Linked DNA regions of Homo sapiens. The protein of the gene in region 1 interacts with the protein of each later gene in a biochemical or structural test. Each region holds a gene or a part of one and is shown in the gene's direction. Other genes may lie near its edges.

Region 1 (7,024 bases):
CTTGTGATCCGCCCCCCTTGGCCTCCCAAAGTGCTGGGATTACAGGCGTGAGCCACCGCACCCAGCCTTGTTTGTTTTTTTTAAAGAGTGGTTGAGGCTGGGCGTGGTGGCTCACACCTGTAATCACAACACTTTGGGAGGCCGAGGTGGGTGGATCACCTGAGGTCAGGAGTTCAAGACCAGCCTGGCCAACATGGTGAAACCCTGTTTCTGTTTCTACTAAAAATACAAAAATTAGCCGAGTGTGGTGGCATGCACCTGTAGTCCCAGTTACTCGGGGCTGAGGCAGGAGGATTGCTTGAGCCTGGGAGGCGGAGGTTGCAGCGAGCCGAGATCCTGCCACTGCAGAGTGAAACCCTGTCTCAAAAAAAAAAAAAAAGAAGGAAAAGAAAAAAAGAAATGGTTGAGTGTCATGGTTTTTGGATGTCCAATGGCTGGTTCCCATCCTTGCTCTGCCACTTGCTAGCTGGTACCCTAGACCAGTCACAACCCCTCAAGGGGTCTCAGTTTTCACATTCATAAAATGGGGATAATCATAAAACCCTTGTTGTCAGGATTTTGTGGAAAGTGAATGAATTAATACAGTTAAAGTGCTTAGGGCATGGCCTGGCATCTAGTAAGTAGGCACTACATGTTAGTTTTTATTATGGTTATTATTGTAAGCATCAGACTCAGTCGTGGGATCACCTCCTCCAGGAAGCCTTCCCTGATTGCCCCAGGTTCAAGCTGTCTTCTGGGCTTCCCTAGTGCTGTCCGTGACTTCTTTGGATCATGTCTGGCCCAAGATGGGGGTTCTGAAAGAACATGCCCTCAGGTGTTGGACTCTTCCCTCTCTTCCAGATGTACAGGTGGATCATCTGAATCTCCTGAAACAGTTTGAACACCTGGACCCTCAGAACCAGCATACATTCGAGGCCCGCGACCTGGAGCTGCTGATCCAGACGGTAATGGGAGTGGGTCCGGAGGCAGAGGATTGAGGGTAGCTTTGCGGAAGGGGAGAAGGGGACAGAGTCCCAGACGTGAGCCAGCTCACCATTCCTGCTGGTGTTCTCTGAGGTTGGAGGCTGGTAGAGGGCTGAGTCGTTTCTTTTCTTTTCTTTTTTTTTTTTTTTTTGAGACGAAATCTCGCTGTTTTCCCCCAGGCTGGAGTGCAATGGCACAATCTCGGCTCACTGCAACCTCCGCCTCCCGGGTTCAAGCGATTCTCCTGCCTCAGCCTCCCGAGTAGCTAGGATTACAGGTGCCTGCCGTCACGCCCAGAAAATTTTTGTATTTTTAGTAGAGACAGGGTTTCACCATGTTGGCCAGGCTGGTCTCGAACTCCTGACCTCAGGTGATCCACCCGCCTCAGCCTCCCAAAGTGCTGGGATTACAAGTGTCAGCCACCGCACCCAGCTCTTCTTATAGTGATACCCACCGTAATCTAGCAGGCCATCATCTTAACTAATTACATCTGCAAACACTCTATTTCCAAATAAGATCACATTCTGAGATTCCAGGTGGACATGAATTTGGGAGTGTGGGGGGAGTATACTGTTCAACCTGGTATTGTTAACTCCATTTTACAGAGGTGGAAACTGAGGCACAAAGAGGCTGAGTAACTTGCCCAGTGTCACAGAGCTTATGAGATTTGGTCACAAAGCAAAGCCTAGATTTGAACGCTGGGCAAAATAGTTAGAAACCTCTTGTTCTTTTTTTGGTTTATTTTTACTTTTTTTTTTTTTTTTTTTACCTGAGACAGCGTCTTGCTCTGATGCCCAGGCTGGAGTGCAGTGGCATGATCACAGCTCACTGCAGCCTCAACCTCCTGGGCTCAAGCAATCCTCCCACCTGACCCTCCTGAGTAGCTGGGACCAGAGGTGCAAGCCACCGCACCAGGCTAATTTTAAAAATTTTTAGTAGACACAAGGTCTCGCTGTGTTATGTGAGTTAGTCTTGAACTCCCGGGCTCGAGTGATCCTCCCACCCTAGCCTCCCAAAGTGCTAGGATTCCAGGCGTGACCCACCTCTCCTAGTCTGACCTTATGTTCTTGGCCACCTAGCTGTACCTGAAATACATAAATACTAAGTTCACCACATATGTTGTTCCTATTTACTTATTCCTCCAAGATCTGGAGATTGTGGAGGACTTGAAAGAGGTGGGTTGAAGTTGCTATTGTATAACCGTCCCAATCTGTTTTGAATAAAGAGAAGAAAGTGTGTTATGGGGCAGGAGCAGTCATGGAAACCAAAAAGGGCGACATCAGGCTGTGCGCGATGGCTCACGCCTATAATCCCAGCACTTTGGGAGGCTGACGTGGGCGGATCACCTGAGGTCAGGAGTTTGAGACCAGCCTGGCCAACATGGTGAAACCTCGTTTCTACTAAAAATACAAAAATCAGCTGGGCCTGGTGACACATGCCTATAATCCCAGCTACTCGAAAGGCCGAGGCAGGAGAATCACTTGAACCCGGAAGACAGAGGTTGAAGTGAGGCAGTGAGCAGAGATTGTGCCACCGCACTCCAGCCTGGGCAACAGAGCAAGACTCCCTCTCAAAAAAAAAAAAAAAAAAAGGGACATTAGGACACGAGACGTAAGAAAGACAGGTAGAGGCTGGGGCTGCCCTCAGCCAGGTTCAGGGCCAAGGGCCTGCCATTTACAGGCTGGAATTGGGGGCTGGGCAGAGGGGGCAGAGGGGAATGACCCTGTGCCTTTCCCCAGGCCACCCGGGACCTTGCCCAGTACGACGCAGCCCATCATGAAGAGTTCAAGCGCTACGAGATGCTTAAGGAACACGAGAGACGGCGTTATCTGGAGTCACTGGGAGAGGAGCAGAGAAAGGAGGCGGAGAGGAAGCTGGAAGAGCAACAGCGCCGGCACCGCGAGCACCCTAAAGTCAACGTGCCTGTGAGGACCCCATTTGTGCCCATCCACTCCCTACCACATCCAGTTCAAACGCAAGACAAGAAAGCAGTTAAAGAACTACAATTCCCAGGGGCCCTTGAGGCAAAAAAACTCCCTGTTACTGTACCTGGCTGCCCCAGGGTCTGCTGGGAGTTGTAGTTTTCTTAGTTTTCTTGCTTGAGGGAGATGATGTTTGTTGGATGAGGGTAAAGGGATATTTGGTTTTATCCCATGGCATCCAGACTTCTTGCTCATGAGCTCCTGGCTCTCCCCTCCACAGGGCAGCCAAGCCCAGTTGAAGGAGGTGTGGGAGGAGCTGGATGGACTGGACCCCAACAGGTTTAACCCCAAGACCTTCTTCATACTGCATGGTAAGGTGGGGAGGGAGTTCCAGAGCCAGGATGAACCCTAGATTCTGACCCTTCTAGGACCTGAATGCTAAGAGGGGTGTGTCTGTCCCAGGAGGGCTTAGTCAGGCCCAAGAGCCAAGCCTATGTCCCCTGGTTGACCAGACAGCCCTGCCTCTCCCGACTACAAGGCTAGGATCTGCATGGAAGGGTTGGGCCTCTTTTCTAGCAAACACCAGACCTCGGGGTTCTAAGGACAGCTGGTGTCCTCTGTAAGCAAACCAGGCTTGGCTAGGCCTGGGCCCTCTGCCCACAGCAGCCCAGGAGAAGCCCTGGTCCACTCTGGGAACCCTGTCGCTAGGAGTGGGTTGTTCCCTAAGAACCAGGCCTCCAGAAGCCTGGAAAACCCTTTCTCTTTTTCTTTTTCCTTTTTTTTTTTTTTTTTGAGATGGAGTCTTGCTCTGTTGCCCAGGCTGGAGTGCAGTGGCATGACCTCGGCTCACTGCAACCCCCTGCCCTCCGCCTCCCGGGTTCAAGTGATTCTCCTGCCTCAGCCTCCCGAGTAGCTGGGATTACAGGCATGCACCACCATGCCCGGCTAACTTTTGTATTTTTAGTAGAGATGGGGTTTCACCATGTTGGCCAGGCTGGTCTCGAACTCCCAACCTCGTGTGATCTGCCCCCTCAGCATCCCAAAGTGCTAGGATTACAGGCGTGAGTCACTGCGCCCGGCCTCGAAAGCCCTTTCTCTATGGTGGATCAAAGGCACACTCCCCTCAGTCTGTCTCTTCCTGTCTGGAAATGTGGCCTGGGGTTGCCAAGCCCCCTCAGGTATGCCAAGCACCCTGTCCCAGAATCTGTAGCCGGTCAGATAAGCTTAGCAAGGCCTGACTCATTCATTCAGCAAACCTTTCCTAAGTTCCCTCTAAGGACCAAGCTTTGTCAAGACCCCGTGGATACAACTGTAAACAAAACAAAGTACCTCCCCCTCAGAGCCAGTGATCAGGCACACAGATCATACCATACTTTAGTAACTCCACGAGACTGTACAGTATGAGAGGTGCTAGCATTTTACGTAAGCTGCCAATTAAATTAACGTACCATTGAAAACAAGATGCGTCCTGGGCTGGGTGTAGTGGCTCATGTCTGTAATCCCAGCACTTTGGTAGGCCAAGGTGGAAGATGGCTTGAGCCCAGGAATTTAAGACCAGCCTGGACAACAAAGTGAGACCCTGTCTCTATTTAAAAAAAAAAAATAGACCAGGCGTGGTGGCTCACGCCTATAATCCCAGCATTTTGGGAGGTTGAGGTGGGAGGATCACCTGAGGTCAGGAGTTCAAGACCAGCCTGGCCAACATGGTGAAACCCCATCTCCACAAAAATACCAAAATTAGCTGGGCATGATCGTGAGTGCCTGTAATCCCAGCTACTCAGGAGGCTGAGGTGGGAGAATCACTTGAACCCGGGAGGCAGAGTTTGCAGTGAGCCAAGATCGTGCCATTGCACTGCAGCCTGGGTGACAGAGCAACACTCCATCTCAAAAAAACAAAGAAAAAAATAAAAATTAAAAGTTAAATAAATAAAGATACATCCCTATTTCAGGGGTGATAAAATAGAAGAACACAAAAGTGCATCTCAGAATCAACGAAGGTTCTAGGCCGGGTGTGGTGGCTCACGCCTGTAATCCCAACACTTTGGGAGGCCTAGGCGGGTGGGTCCCTTGAGGCCAGGAGTTGGAGACCAGCCTGGCCAACATGGCAAAACCCAGTCTCTACTAAAAATACAAAAATTAAAAAACAAAACAAAAATTAGCCAGGCATGGTAGTGCTCACCTATAGTCCCAGCTACTCAGGAGGCTGAGGTAGGAGAATCGCTTGAACCCGGGAGGCGGAAGGCGGGGGTTGCAATGAGCTGAGATCACACCACTGCACTCCAGCCTGGGCAACAGAGTGAGACTCTGTCTCAAAAAGCAATAGAAAGTAAAAAAGAATTAGAAGATTCTGTAATGGGGTCTCAGGTAGTGACGTGTACTACCTCGCAGCCTTGACCACCCAGGTTCAAGTGATCCTCCCCCTCAGCCTCCCAAGTATCTGGGACCACAGGCACGTACCACTATGCCTGGCTAATTTTTTTAATTTTTAGTAAAGGCAAGGTTTTACCATGTTGCCCAGGCTGGTCTCAAACTCCTTTGCTCAAGCGATCCACCTATCTTGGCCTCCCGAAGTGCTGGGGTTACAAGCATGAGCCATCCCACCGGGCACCACCCCCCGTGTTTTGTTTTGTTTTTTTTTTGAGACAGGATCTTGCTATGTTGCCCAGGCTGGAGTCAAACTCCAGGCCTCAAACAATCCTCCTGCCTCAGTCACCTGAGTAGCTGAGACTGCAGGTGTGTGCCACTGCGCCCAGCTTTAAAGATGTTTAATTGTACAGTTCAATAGTATTAAGTATATTTACACTGTCATGCAACCAATTCTGAGAGCTCTTCATCTCGCACAACCGAAACCGTATCCATTAAACCACTCGCCCTCCCCTTCTTTCCCCTGCTCTCTAGCAACCACCATTCTATTTTCTGTCTCTATGATTTTGACTATTTTAGGTACTTCATGCAAGTAGAATCTTTTGGTATTTGTCGTGTGTGTGTGTGTGTGTGTGTGTGTGTTTGGCTTATTTCACTTAGCATAATGGTGAGGAACTGAAGTTTTCATTCTACTGGATATTAATTTCTATTTCAATTGCCCCATGTGGCTAGTGGCTGCTGTACTGGAGTCCCAGCACAGCTCTAGAGAGGACATTTGGGCTGGATGCGGTGGCTCACGCCTGTAATCCCAGCACTTTGGGAGGCCGAGGTGGGTGGATCCCTTGAGTCCAGGAGTTCAAGGCCAGCCTGGGCAACATGGCACAAACCCATCTCTACAAATAAAATACAAAAATTAGCTGGGTGTGGTGGCGTGCATCTGTAGTCCCAGCTCCTTGGGAGGCAGAGGTGGGAGGATCACTTGAGTCCAGGAATTCAAGGCTGCAGTGAGCTATGATCATACCAGTGCCCTCCAGCCTGGGCAACAGAGTGAAACCCTGTCTCTAAAAAATAGAAAATAGGCTGGGCTCAGTGGCTCACGCCTGTAGTCCCAGCACTTTCGGAGGCCAAGGCAGGCAGATCAGGAGCTCAAGAGATCGAGACCATCCTGGCCAACATAGTGAAACCCCGTCTCTACTAAAAATACAAAAATTATCTGGGCATGGTGGCACGCACCTGCAGTCCCAGCTACTCAGGAGGCTGAGGCAGGAGAATCACTTAAACCCTGGAGGTGGAGGTTGCAGTGAGCTGAGATCATGCCACTGCACTCCAGCCTGGCAACAGAGCGAGACTCTGTCTCAAAAATAAATAAACAAATAAATAGGCCCGGCGCAGTGGCTTACCCCTATAATCCCAGCACTTTGCGAAGCCAAGGCGGCTGGATCCCTTGAGACCAGGAGTTCAAGACCAGCCTGGGCAACATGGCAAAACCCCATCTCTATGAAAACAAATACAAAAATTAGCTGGGTGTGGTGGCGTGCATCTGTAGTCCCAGCTACTTGGGAGGCTGAGGTGGGAGGATCACTTGAGCCGAGGAGTTCAAGGCTTCAGTGAGCTACGATCACACCATTGCACTCCAGCCTGGGTGACAGAGTGAGACCCTGTCTCTAAAAAATAAAAAAATAAAAACCTTATTTAATCTTTTTAATCAGGCAGTCCCTACAGACCAGAATAGGTTCAGAGCAACTCCCTATACCTTTTTTTATTTTTCATTTTTT
Region 2 (7,024 bases), on another chromosome or scaffold:
CCTGCAGGCCGCATGCGGGTGCTGAAGGTGCAGAATTCCTCTCCCCCGGGGAGGCGGCCGTGGACTCCTATCCCAACTGGCTCAAGTTCCACATTGGTATCAACCGGTACGAGCTGTACTCCAGACACAACCCGGCCATCGAGGCCCTGCTGCACGACCTCAGCTCCCAGAGGATCACCAGCGTGGGTAGGTGTCCTTGGGTGCACTCAGGGCCGTCTGTGTGCCGGCTGTGTGGCATCAGGGCTGCTGGGGCAGGCTATGTGTTAGAGAGGTCTGGGAGGCCGTTGCTCATTACGGCAGCGTCACCTCCTGCAGCAATCTGCACGGGCAGCGAGGAGGGACAGAGGGCTCGCGTCTCGTGTGCTCTCACACTGGATGTGCTCCTGATCTGCCGCACGATGAGCGGGGAGACGCCTGGACAGCCGGTCCACTGCGCTCTGCGTCCTCACCTGGGTGGTCCCGGGGGTGCCAACTGGATGACAGAGTCCTTCCCTCCTGGGGTAGAGGAATAGAGGGGTATCTCTGGCGGCGGTGACCCCTCCACCGGAAGCGTGTGCATGGAACTCTCCTGCTTTTCTACACACGACCCTGGCTGGGTGGGGAGACAGCCATGAGCCTGCTTCTTGTGGTTTTGAAGCCGTCCTTCGTCAGACCTCAGCAAGGCGCTGTGCAGTTTCATACTGAGGAGACATAGGCAGGGCTCAGGACGGAGGCCTGGGCCTCCCAGATGGAGGAGTTTGAAGGCAACATCTCCAGGTACTTTGGGATCTGCTGAATTGGACAAAAAAGGGCATCCAGTTGCTGATTTCAGGAAAATATGCCACTGCAGCTTCTGAGCGTGGAGGTTTGGTGCCATTGTTCTCAGCTTGTAGGCGATTGTTTGTGAAGGTCCCATTTGTCACCAGTGCTTGGAGAGGTAGTGAGGGCGGGGCTGAGGCCCTTTAGTGGGAGCAGCTGCTCCCCGGGGATTGCAGGGAGTGGGCCTGGGTGCACACAGCTGTGGGCAGGTGCAGAGGCCATGACAGCCTGAAGGCAGGGCTTTCTTTGCGCTGTGTGATGAGGCCAGCAGTCCCAGGCATTAGCTTCATGTGTGTCTCAGAAGCAACCTTGGTGCTGAAAGGGTCCCAGCAGCCTGGGGTTCTGTCCAGTTGCTGACACAGGACTTAGGTGTCCCCTTTCAGGCCAGCAGGTAGGTTCTCCTGAGCTCTTCGGGGCTGTTTCTGGCTCTCTCTGCCGGGTGCTGAGTTGTTTGCTGGGCACTCACCTGGTCATGGGGAGACAGAACTTGCAGCTCTCTCCCCACCCCTTGATCAGCTCACCTCATAACAGAGATCAGCTGGACAAGCTGGGAGTCCTCTTCCCTCCATGCTGCCTGGGAGTAACCTGAACCCCTGCCCCCCTCCAGGCCCCCCTCCGTGAAAGCGCTGCCTTTCTCCTGCCCCTGCAGCGGTCTGAGGGCTTTCAGCTGTGCTGGGGAACAGTCCTGCAGACAGCCACAGCCAGAACGTCCCTTCTGCCCCTGAGAGTGAGCATGGCCATTAAGGAAATATCCGATGCATTGATCAACATGTTTGTCCATTCAGCAGATTTTACTGGCACCTCCTGCATGTCAGACCCCCTTTCTGGGTGGTGGGGAGTTGAGGATGAGTTCAGCCTCAACGAGATCTGCTGCCTCTGTGGACCTGACAGCCCCAGGAAGAGACACACACGCACAGTGCCCGATCCTGAGGAGGAACGAGCACTTCAGAGCCGTGCACGCCAGCCAGGCCGTGTGGAGAGGAGGGGGCTCCACTGGGAGGGGCTGAGGACCTTCCACAGGGTCTGTCGGGCAGCTTACCTTCCAGGTGGGTCCGTCTTGGCAGGGAGAGGAATGAGAGAGCCGTGCACACCAGCCAGGGCGTTCGGGAGGAGCAGCACGCAAGTTAGAAAGTCCCCAGTGCCGCTGTCCGTATGAGCTTCTCTCCAGCTCATTTTCCCCATCTGTCCAGTGGGATCTCGCTGCGTGGGACCAATGCAAGGATAGGATGAGATGTGCATGTGAGCAAGCTTGTTAAATATTAACTAGTACTTTGTGCGTGGCCTTCCACAACAGTCCCCTCGTGTGCACAGGCAGGGTCTGAGCAGAGGGAGGGCTTTGTGGATTCCAAAGGCCACCAGGCCCTTGGCAGGCAACTGCAGCTCGCCACCTCCCTCACCGACCGGTCAGCTTTCCAACACCAACACTGAAGAGGTGTGGGAGTTCTGTGCCAGGAGCTCCCAGAGCAGCTTCAGGGAGAGTGTGGGGCCCCCTGGGACCTGGGGCATCTTTGCCCACCTTAGGAGTGCTTTGTCCATCTGGACAAGCTAGGCTTGGCTCACTGCCACCCCTCTTTGGTCCAGCTGTCCCGGGGCAGTGGTGCCCAGGCTGCCTGACATTGCAGGGGTGTGGACAGAGCCCTTGCCAGGGAATCCCTACCCCAGGATTCTGGTGTGGCCTCCGCCTGGGTGTGTCCTGGTTAATTCCTGTGCCTACTGAAGGCCTGCCCCAGCTGATCTCGCTCGCTCGCCTCCTAGACCATGCTGGCCACATTGGTTCTCATCCAGTCTTCTGGGGTGGGGACCCGTCCAAGGACAGGCTGGCTGCTCAGTCATTCTGCAGGGCCAAGCAGGGCCTGCAAGGACGATGGGCAGACACAGCCGCATCACCCAGGCAGGACAGCAGGCTCTGGCCCAGGAGATCTGGGGGTGAATCCTGGCTCTGCCAGCCATTAGCCAGAGTGGAAGTGGGCAAATGGATTAACGCCTCCAGCACCTGGTTTCTCACCGAGAACACAGAGAAGGTTATAATCTGGACCTGGTATAATCTGGACTCTGACTTACAAATCTGAATGCCAAGCAAAACCCATTCACTAGCGAAAACTGACTCAGGCTGAACGTATTTAGGGGCAAAACCTAAATTGTCGAGGCTAGTTAAAAGTCCTGATTTTTCTCTGTTACATTGAATAGTCACATGTTCCTCTGAGGAACAGGAGTGGGTTTAATTATGGGGTTCTGCCCTAGACCCGTGTGGGCATGCCATGATCCACACCATGCACCACGTGTGCCTTTGTCATCGAAATACCTGCAGTTCCCAAATACATCTGGCCTCACAGGGTTGTTGGGGCTTAAATGTGCAAATACGAGTAAAGAGGTGAGAGCGGAGCCTGACAGCGCACCTGCTGGGCAGGGTCTCCAACACTGCAGCATTTTGGGGGAAGCTCTCCTACTGGGTGGGGTCTTTGTACAGCAGCAGCATTTCAAGGTGGGCTGATCCTTCTCATCTGGGGAAGCCAGGGCTGGGCAGGTGCCTGAGCCTCATGAGGGTCTCAGTCTAGATGCTGGGCCCTATTCTCCCTGCTGCCTTGGGCTTGGAGATGCTCACAGGTGAGTTCTCATTTGTGAAGAGGTCTGTCTTCCTGAGGAAGCAGGGGACCCTCACCTGTGAACCAAGTGTGCCATGGGAGCTGCTCCATGTCCAGGTCCAGGTCTCCTGGTCTGCAGGGAACGGCACAAGAGGGCTGGCCTAGGCCAGGAGGATGTGATCTGTCCTAGAAGGGGGCTGACCTGCTTGCTGACCCCGCTTGCTGCTGCCTGGCTGGCCTGACTCAGCCACGGCTGTTCCGAGGGCCCTTCTGAGTACGAACTTCCAGTTGGAGGATCTGGGTGAAGACCCAGCTGCTTGAGATAGCAGCCTCTGGCTAGGCCCTTGGCGTGGCCAAGCCAATCAGGCAGGTTTAGAGCCTGGTGCCCCTAGACAGGTCCTGCAACCAAGAACAGGGGTAGCCTTCAAAGGCCAGCCCTGCCTTCCAACCACCGCTCCACAGCGAGGGAAACCAAGGCTCTTAGGGCAGGAGGCTTGTCCGAGATTAGCACCTGCGTGCTCCAGGCTCTGAGTTCTGTCCCCTCAGCTGTCCGGCCCCTGGGTGCTCACTTTAATCTCAAGTCATTCATCTTACTATTAAACGTGAGCCCAGAAATATTGTTGTAATGGAGAACGATGCCTGCGAGTCTCCAAAGCCTTCCCTCGGAACGGTTCCATTAAATCTCTCCTGCTCAGAACCACCCAATCCAATTCATGGAGCGCCACGTGGTCTACAGCACAGCTGGTTAGGGCCAGCGGAGGTTTATTTATAGCTGGGCTCCTGGCTGCCTGGTAACCGGCCATTGCCACCTTTAAAGAGTCTTGGGATATTATCTACCTCTATTCAGCTTGAAATCGGGCATGCAGTGCCTTGGGCTGGGGCTGGCGATAATTAAATTTCTATCATGCACAATTATGGATGCAAAGAATGAATGACATCCCACTGGCATGTGAGGATTCGGGCAGCTTCTGGACTGAAATACAGACTTCATAATTGCTCCATCCAGATTGGGACAAAGACTGTGGTTGGGAGAACATGCCTGAACAAAGAAAAATGACTCTGCAGGACCAAAGTTCTTGACACTGATTGATCTGCCAAAAGGGGAAGAATGAGTCCAGCTAGAATCCAGGACTAACCAGCGGGTGAGCTTCAAGGAACAAAGGGCTTCCGCTGGGTCAGCCCACGAGAGGGAGCTGCCTGCAGGTACCTGGGAGGGCACAGCCACCGTGTCTGTTCCTTGGGAGCAGGGCTCCTTGGAAGGCAGCGCCAGCTCCAGAAAGGCCACTGTTCCCCCTCCCACCCACCCCAGGTGGCAACTGCCCCTGCAGGTCACGGTCCCAGGGCCTCGCTCGGCCGGCCTAGAGAGAGAAAAGGGAAGATGCCCAATTAGCTGGACGCCCATGGCCCCAGGGCTGGGGGACCTTGGGTTATCCTGAAAGAAGGACAATGACCACCTGCAAAGGACGATTTCAAGTGGAGCCTGGAGGAGGCGGCAAATAGCTCAGTCCGCACTCAACTCCCTTCCCAGCCGTCTGGTGGAAGGTGAGGAGCAAAAGCTCATGCTGCTGAGGCCTGGGGCCACCCAGGCACCGGCCTCCCCGTGCTGAGCAGAGACAGCAGCCCCCTAGCTGCAGGAGTGTGCCCCGATGCGCACCTGCCGACTTTCCTTCTGATGCAGACATGGTCCCCACTGGGGCAAGGCTGCAGTTTTCTTTTAAAAAACAGATCTTTCAAAATAAAAGGGGCCTTGAAGAAAATCGTGGAATAAATAACAGTCTGGGGTGGAGGCGGTTCTGGCGAAAGTGTCCTGAGGGTGGTGTGTGATGGACGGGACTTTGGGCAGTGCTGATGGGGCCTTGCCTGTCACTTGAGGCCTCCAGGAGAGTCGAGGACTGGCAGATCCAGGTCCAGAGCAGGTGCAGGCTCCCAGCTCTTCCAGCCCCTTACCTCGCAGTAGGTTCCCACAGTTCTAGCCTCCTTGATGCCAGCCCCAGGGTGCCCACTGCTGGCCAACTATGTCCTTTTCCTCAAAACCAGGTCCCTCGGTGCCCAGGGTGAATGGGTATATGAGCCTGGGTGTGGGCACCCGGGGTCTGGGACACCGAGCAGACCTCTCTGGCTTGGAGATGTGTGCGGTGGGAAGAACAGGGTGACCTGAGCTCTCCCGGTGTCACATTCTCCACATCTGAGCCCTCTTTGGGTGAGGCCCTACTTCCAGCACACACAGCTGTCCCCATTCGTCTTCAGGAATAACTGACCCTTGAGGCCAGACAGTGGCTGTGAAGAGCAGGGGGACCGCCTGACCGTGACCCCCAAGGACAGACGCTGGCCCTCTTGACGGACGAGATGACCAGGGCCAAAGGCGGCAACATGGGGGCCCACGCTGACGGCAGCATCTCACACCTGGATGTGTTTCTGTGGTCCACAGGTCTGTAGGAGGTGGAACTGGTTAATTTAAAGTCAGGTTGGGGTTGTTGTTAGAAAGGGTTCCTGCTCCCACGAGAAACCAAGGATGAGTGGTGGCTGCACCCAGTCTCCATCCCCATGAGCACCCTGCGGGGTGTTGGGACCCCCAGGCCCGGGCCACACACCTCTCTCTTTCAGGGCCGTCTCTCCCTGTCTCTCCAGACCTGCTCTGGGTTCTTCCTTCTAGAGCTTCCCAGTGGGTTGCCGGAGCTGTCTGGGGTTATGTGGCTTGCCTAAGGCCACACCGATTGGGGCCTGGCACCAAAGTCCATTAGTATTTCTGTGACAGCAGCCATCTTTCTATGTAAGACGCTTATTTCATAAGAAATGCCAGCATCTCTTGGAGTCCTTCTGAGGAGGCAACTGCATACGAACATCGCCTCTGTCTCGTGCTGTGACCCGGGGAGAGACTGTGGGCAAAACCCAGTGGCGTCCGAGGGTCTGTGTGGCCCCGAACTCTTAGTGCTGACAGCAACATGAAATAATGAAGGCACAGGGCACTCTGTTCGTGCATGTTAACTTGTGTAACTAGTGCACGTTAATCACATTAACTAGCCATGTTAACTAGTGACGTAGATTAATAATGATGAATCAATAGGAATGAGTCCTGTATACTGACGGATATCCGGGCGATAGGATTCTTCAGCGAGGCCGGGGAAGAAGCAGACTGTCACCTTTGGTCTAAAGTTGGTGGGTTAAGTGGTGGGAGGTGCTCAGGGCAGGTGGCAGGAAGGGGAGAGCGTTCCAGATGGGGAGAACCTATTTGAAAGGCAGTGGACATCTTCCCATGTGCATAGAGAGGACGGGTGGCCACTGGGCGAGATTGCACTGGGGAATGGGGCTTGTGGACATCTTCCCGTGTGCATAGAGAGGACAGGTGGCTGCTGGGTGGGATTGTACTGGGGAATGGGGGGGCCCTATGGATATCTTCCAGTGTGCATAGAGAGAATGGGTGACTGCTGGGTGAGATTGCACTGGGGAATGGGGCCCGTGGACATCTTCCTGTGTGCATAGAGAGGACGGGTGACTGCTGGGTGGGATTGTACTGGGGAATGGGGGGGCGCTATGGATATCTTCCCATGTGCATAGAGAGAATGGGTGGCTGCTGGGTGAGATTGCACTGGGGAATGGGGCTTGTGGACATCTTCCCGTGTGCATAGAGAGGACGGGTAGCTGCT

The links. Proteins that work in one complex are often made in the same cells at the same time.
Region 2: of the proteins of NUCB1 (region 1) and FAM20C, one has a biochemical effect on the other in vitro, tested with the Homo sapiens proteins (one study listed by IntAct).

The regions. Positions count from the first base shown.
Region 1 is NC_000019.10:48,910,309-48,917,332, forward strand, and holds part of NUCB1 (nucleobindin-1 precursor), read left to right. Parts: intron 1-621; exon of another isoform or gene 622-840; coding exon 841-944; intron 945-2,702; coding exon 2,703-2,888; intron 2,889-3,165; coding exon 3,166-3,256; intron 3,257-7,024. UniProt on the Homo sapiens protein: Major calcium-binding protein of the Golgi which may have a role in calcium homeostasis. Acts as a non-receptor guanine nucleotide exchange factor which binds to and activates alpha subunits of guanine nucleotide-binding proteins (G proteins).
Region 2 is NC_000007.14:195,547-202,570, forward strand, and holds part of FAM20C (extracellular serine/threonine protein kinase FAM20C precursor), read left to right. Parts: intron 1-7; coding exon 8-186; intron 187-1,586; coding exon of another isoform or gene 1,587-1,954; exon of another isoform or gene 1,955-5,137; intron 5,138-7,024. UniProt on the Homo sapiens protein: Golgi serine/threonine protein kinase that phosphorylates secretory pathway proteins within Ser-x-Glu/pSer motifs and plays a key role in biomineralization of bones and teeth.